Linked DNA regions of Homo sapiens: region 2 is linked to region 1. The links come from fine-mapping of genetic effects on gene expression. Tissue or cell type: prefrontal cortex. Region 1 holds a variant in brackets; the other region holds the start of a gene. All regions are shown on one strand. Distances are from middle to middle.

Region 1 (2,684 bases):
ACATCTTTTAACTTACCCCCATCTCTATCTGATCCTATCTATATATGAAGTTAGAGCAGGGAGGAATAGGTGACTCAGAGTCTTTTTCTTTCTCTTTCCCCTTCCCATCCCCTCATTACTTAATAAAAACAGCAAACAAGAGAACTCTAGATTCTAGATAACTTATAAGTATCAATTATCAACTGCCACAACAATGCTTCTTATCAAACAGCTACAAACTTCAGTATCGTGCAGCAGAAAGCATTCACTGCTTGTGCATCTGGGGCATTCAGTCAGGCAGCTCTGCTGATTTCGATTTCCAGAACTGTCTGCAGATCGGCTGGCCATAAGCTGCTGCTCCGCATGCCTCTCATGCAGGAGCCAGCTAGCCCAGGTATATTCTTATGGCAGTGATGAGGTGCAAGTGCAAAAGCTGATGTTCAGGGCTTTTCCAAACCTCTGTATATTGCATATGTTTTTTTCTTTTTTTTTTTTTTGAGACAGAGTCTCACTCTGTCACCCAGGCTGGAGTGCAGTGGCGTGATCTCGGCTCACTGCAAGCTCCGCCTCCCCGGTTCACGCCATTCTCCTGCCTCAGCCTCCCCGAGTAGCTGGGACTACAGGCGCCTGCCACCACGCCCGGCTAATTTTTTGTATTTTTTAGTAGAGATGGGGTTTCACTGTGTTAGCCAGGATGGTCTCGATCTCCTGACCTCGTGATCCGCCCGCCTTGGCCTCCCAAAGTGCTGGGATTACAGGCGTGAGCCACCGCGCCCGGCCCCTGTTGCATATGTTAACACCCCTTTCCCAACAAATCGAACAGTGGGCACAGACTAGGAGGGTACTGGAAGACCACATGCTCAAGGATGCTGATCTCGGAGGGGGCGGGGTGCGTGTGAGGAATTGGAGCCATTAATGAGATCGTTCAACCTCAGGACTTAAGCAAACACATACTACTTGCCTTGTGGCTAATTTGACTATTTCTTTACTCTAGGCATGACTCAGTTACTCAGAAATAATTATTTTTCAATCTTAGTGTCTTCTGTGCCTAGTTTTCTTATCCCTGAAATATAATCTTTGATTTCTATATAATCTAAGTCACGTTCATCTATCCCAGGAATATCTGTGAAGATACATCACCCACAATTTCCTCTCATTTAGTAACTATAATTCAGCCCTTCTGTCGCTCTCCTACATACCAAAATATTGCTGTACACAGCTACGTTTATGGATTCTTTATCCATCCTTGGCTGGACCGCTAATGAAATACCCACATGCCATTCTCAGGCAGTGAAGATTTGAGAGAAAGAGCTCTATTTGAAAACCGTAACAAGTCCGTGGGGTTTCCATGGTTGGAGCACATGCTAAAATTCTCTCTCTCTCTTTTATTCTCAGGGAAAGTTTCAAATGGAAGACTTAGTATATAATCCGGAACAAGTGCCACGTTACTACCAAAATGCCTACCTGCACCTGCGACCCTTCTACAGCACAACCCGCAGCTTCCTTGGCATCCACCGGCTAAACGGCCCCTTGAAATGTGGCCAGCCCCAGGAAGTGCTGGTGGATTATTACATCGACCCGGCCGATGC[AAG/A]CCCTGACCAAGAGATCAGCTTCTCCTACTATGTGAGACCGGGAAACGGGGACGGGTGAGAGTATGCTGGGAAGGAAAGAGAATGAGAAGAGTCAGCCAGAGGGTGCACCTAGGCTATCTGAATTGCAGATGCACATCTAATTAAAAACAATTTTAAAGCCACACTAAAAAAGTAAAAGAACAGTTGACATTAATTTTAAATGTATTTTTTATTTAACCCATTATATCCAAAATATTAACATTTTAACACGAAAGCCATATAAAAAGTTTTAATAGATATTTTACATTCTTGTTTCAACGGTGTCTTTGAAACTCAGTATGTATTTTACACTTAAAGCGTATCTCAGTTTGGACTGAGCACATTTCAAGTATTCAATATTCCTTTTTTTTTCTTTTTTTTTTTTTTTGAGACACAGTCTCGCTCAGTTGCCCAGGCTGGAGTGCAGTGGTGTGTTCTTGGCTCACTGCAAGCTCCACCTCCCAGGTTCACGCCATTCTCCTGTCTCAGCCTCCCAAGTAGCTGGGACTACAGGCGCCCGCCACCACGCCCAGCTAATTTTTTTTGTATTTTTAGTAGAGACGGGGTTTCACCATGTTAACTAGGATGGTCTCGATCTCCTGACCTCGTGATCCACCTGCCTCAGTCTCCCAGAGTGCTGGGATTACAGGCATGAGCCACCGCGCCCGGCCTCAAGTATTCAATATTCCTATGTGGCTATGAGATACTGCATGGCCCAGTATAGGTGTAAGAGATGGAAAACATTGGGGGAAGAAAGAGATTCTGAGCAGGAACACAGGAAAATTGTGTGGGAAAATAAAATGAGGAATTACCTGAGAAAATAGTGCTGGCCAGGACCAAAAAAAACAAAAACAAAAACAAAACCAGCTGGGTGGTTGGGAGGGAGAGTGGGGAGGGATGGGACTCAGGATACTTTTTTTTTTTTTTTAATTTATATGAGACAGGGTTTCGCCATGTTGGCCAGGCTGGTCTTGAACTCCTGACCTCAGGTGATCTGCCCACCTTGGCCTCCCAAAGTGCTGGGACTGCAGGCATGAGCCACCGAGCCCAGCCAGGATACATTTCATTCTGTGTTCCATTGGTCAATATTATCAA
Region 2 (2,684 bases), 20 kb before region 1:
TGGGATTATAGGCATGAGCCACTGCACTTAGACTAATTTATATTTTAGGTGACTTCTAAGTATTACCATCATAAAGAACACTGTGGGCTGGGCACGGTGGCTCATACCTGTAATCCCAGCACTTTGGGAGGCTGAGGTGGTCCCTGGAGCTCAGGAGTTCGAGACTAGCCTGGGCAACATGGTGAAACCCTGTCTCTATTAAAAATACAAAACAATTAGCCAGGAGTGTTGGTGCCTACCTGTGGTCCCAGCTACTCAGGAGGTGGAGGTGGGAGGATCGCTTGAGCCCAGGAGGTCAAAGCTGCAGTGGGCTGAGATTGTGCCACTGCACTCCAGCCTGGGTGATAAAGTGAGACTCTACTTCAAAAAAATAAAAAATAAAGAAAAGAAAAAAAAGAAAGAACAGTGTGAAAAAACTCAGTGTTACACTTGTGCATACATGCATGCTGTCCTTTTTTTCCTCATTAAGAAACATTTCCAGAGTAGGAGTTGCTGAGTGAAAGAATATGCAAATCTCAAAGGCTTTGGTGTGTATTACAAAATTGCCATGAGAAAGTTATCCACATTCTATTTTCTCTAGGACTGTGTGTGTCCCTATTTCCATACAGTCACAACAATACTGAGTAGTATTAATTTTTTTTTTTTTTGAGACAGAGTCTCGTTGTGTCACCCACGCTGGAGTAAAGTGGCATGATCTCGGCTCACTGCAACCTCCACCTCCCGGGTTCAAGCGATTCTCCTGCCTCAGCCTCCCAAGTAGCTGGGACTATAGGCACCCACCACTATGCCCAGCTGATTTTTTTTTCTTTGTATTTTTAGTAGAGACAGGGTTTCACTATGTTGGCCAGGCTGGTCTTGAACTCCTGACCTGGTGATCTGCCCACCTCAACCCCCCAAAGTGCTGGGATTACAGGCGTGAGCCACTGTGACCGGCCAAGTTTACTGCTTTTCTATTGAAACTGTTCTCATACCCGTGTTCCCAACTACACCTTAATTGAATAATAAAAGAAAATAAGGACATTAAATGAGAACAGGAATTGGAATGAGACCAGAAAAAAAGGGAGGAGTTCAAAATATGTTCTGAGAGCTTTACCATTATGAATACTCAGCTCTGGTTTTCCCCCAAAACTGGCTGAACCAGTATGGATGTTCCAGGCAGAAACAACTTTAAAGAAGTGAATAGTGGCCCTACCCTGGTCCACCACCTAACCTGGTGGTTACAGAAGGAGGAACACAGTCCTCCTGTGTTCCAGGTGCCAGGAGGTGACTGACTATAGCATCAGTCATCACTGCACACCCTACCTGGAATTAGTATATAAAGCTACGCGGAGCGATCTCTGCCCCTGACCCTGGAAAAATCTGTCTCACCCACAAAGATGTGGGCTCAGCTCCTTCTAGGAATGTTGGCCCTATCACCAGCCATTGCAGAAGAACTTCCGTGAGTGCTTGGTGTCAGAATTGGTTTATTAGGGCAGCGGCTTCTTCGCCTAACTTTCTCAAACATTTATATGGAGATGGGGAGATCAACTTTGGTTTATCTTAATTTCCTCCTCCTTTTTTCTCTTCTTTGGTTCCACTGATCCTTTACCCAGAGAGGGAGGCTGACGCATGAAGAGGAAGCTTTAAAAAAGATAAATATTAAAATGTGCCCTGTTTTCTGAAATAGGCCTAATTTCCTCCTTGGTGCTCTAGGCATGTGTGCTCGGTGAGGGCCTCCTGATGGCGGAAGTTGAAGACTGTGCACTGAGTCGTTGCCCCTCTGCTTCTTGTAGAAAATGAGGTGCATAAGGAAGGCAGGGGCTTGGTCTGTCTAATTCACTGCTACTTGCTGAGCGCTTAGGAGAGTGCTGGATTTTTCGAGTGAATGAATCATTATTGCCCTGAAATCCTTCTGCTCCTTTAATAGAAACTACCTGGTGACATTACCAGCCCGGCTAAATTTCCCCTCCGTTCAGAAGGTTTGTTTGGACCTGAGCCCTGGGTACAGTGATGTTAAATTCACGGTTACTCTGGAGACCAAGGACAAGACCCAGAAGTTGCTAGAATACTCTGGACTGAAGAAGAGGCACTTACATTGTATCTCCTTTCTTGTAAGCACAGACTCAGCCCTCACTCGAATCCCTTACTTGCCTATTCTCCTCCCTAGGCTCACTATAATCTACTTTAAGTATAATTTCTGTTATCTTTTGCCACGGCCTCTAAACCTATTTTTTCTCAACTTAACCTCAATCCCCGGCTATAACTCACCCACGGTTTCCTCGACCTAGGATTTCTCCCTTTAGTTCCTGACCTTAATTCTTCCTCGTGGTAATTTGTTTTATGTCTCTATCCTTGCTACCCCCATCTAACTCAGCTCTTTCCTTTAACTCACTGTTGGGTTGAGACCAGTTGATTCTGTTCCCCCAATCCCTTACCCCTCCCCAGAAGTCCCCTTTCTTGGTCAGGTACCACCTCCTGCTGGTGGCACAGAAGAAGTGGCCACAATCCGGGTGTCGGGAGTTGGAAATAACATCAGCTTTGAGGAGAAGAAAAAGGTTCTAATTCAGAGGCAGGGGAACGGCACCTTTGTACAGACTGACAAACCTCTCTACACCCCAGGGCAGCAAGGTAAGAGTCACATATTTGGGGTTCGACTAAAACCTGGGGAAACCGCTGTGCACAGGGGTAAAGAGGGGATTTGTGGT

Alleles and levels. Alleles are on the strand shown, and positions count from the first base shown. SD is a standard deviation of normalised expression in the study named.
As copies of AAG replace A in region 1, the expression in prefrontal cortex of the gene that starts at base 1,346 in region 2 goes up (moderate effect, 0.69 SD a copy in BrainSeq).

The links. PIP is the estimated chance that this variant, and not a neighbour inherited with it, causes the effect.
Region 2: it holds the start of A2ML1, and the variant in region 1 is fine-mapped to the expression of A2ML1 in prefrontal cortex (BrainSeq, PIP 0.95).

Annotation. Positions count from the first base shown.
Region 1 is chr12:8,841,760-8,844,443 of GRCh38, forward strand. A2ML1 (alpha-2-macroglobulin like 1) reads left to right here. Exons shown (of 36, transcript NM_144670.6): 12 at 1,375-1,602. Among named protein-coding and RNA genes, the nearest start is that of A2ML1-AS1, 12 kb to the left of the region's middle. The variant AAG/A (reference allele first, on the strand shown) is at 1,569.
Region 2 is chr12:8,821,276-8,823,959 of GRCh38, forward strand. It overlaps A2ML1 (alpha-2-macroglobulin like 1), which reads left to right and starts at 1,346. Exons shown (of 36, transcript NM_144670.6): 1 at 1,346-1,438; 2 at 1,907-2,090; 3 at 2,445-2,607. The coding sequence starts at 1,377. All of the region lies in intron 1 of A2ML1-AS1 (A2ML1 antisense RNA 1), which reads right to left.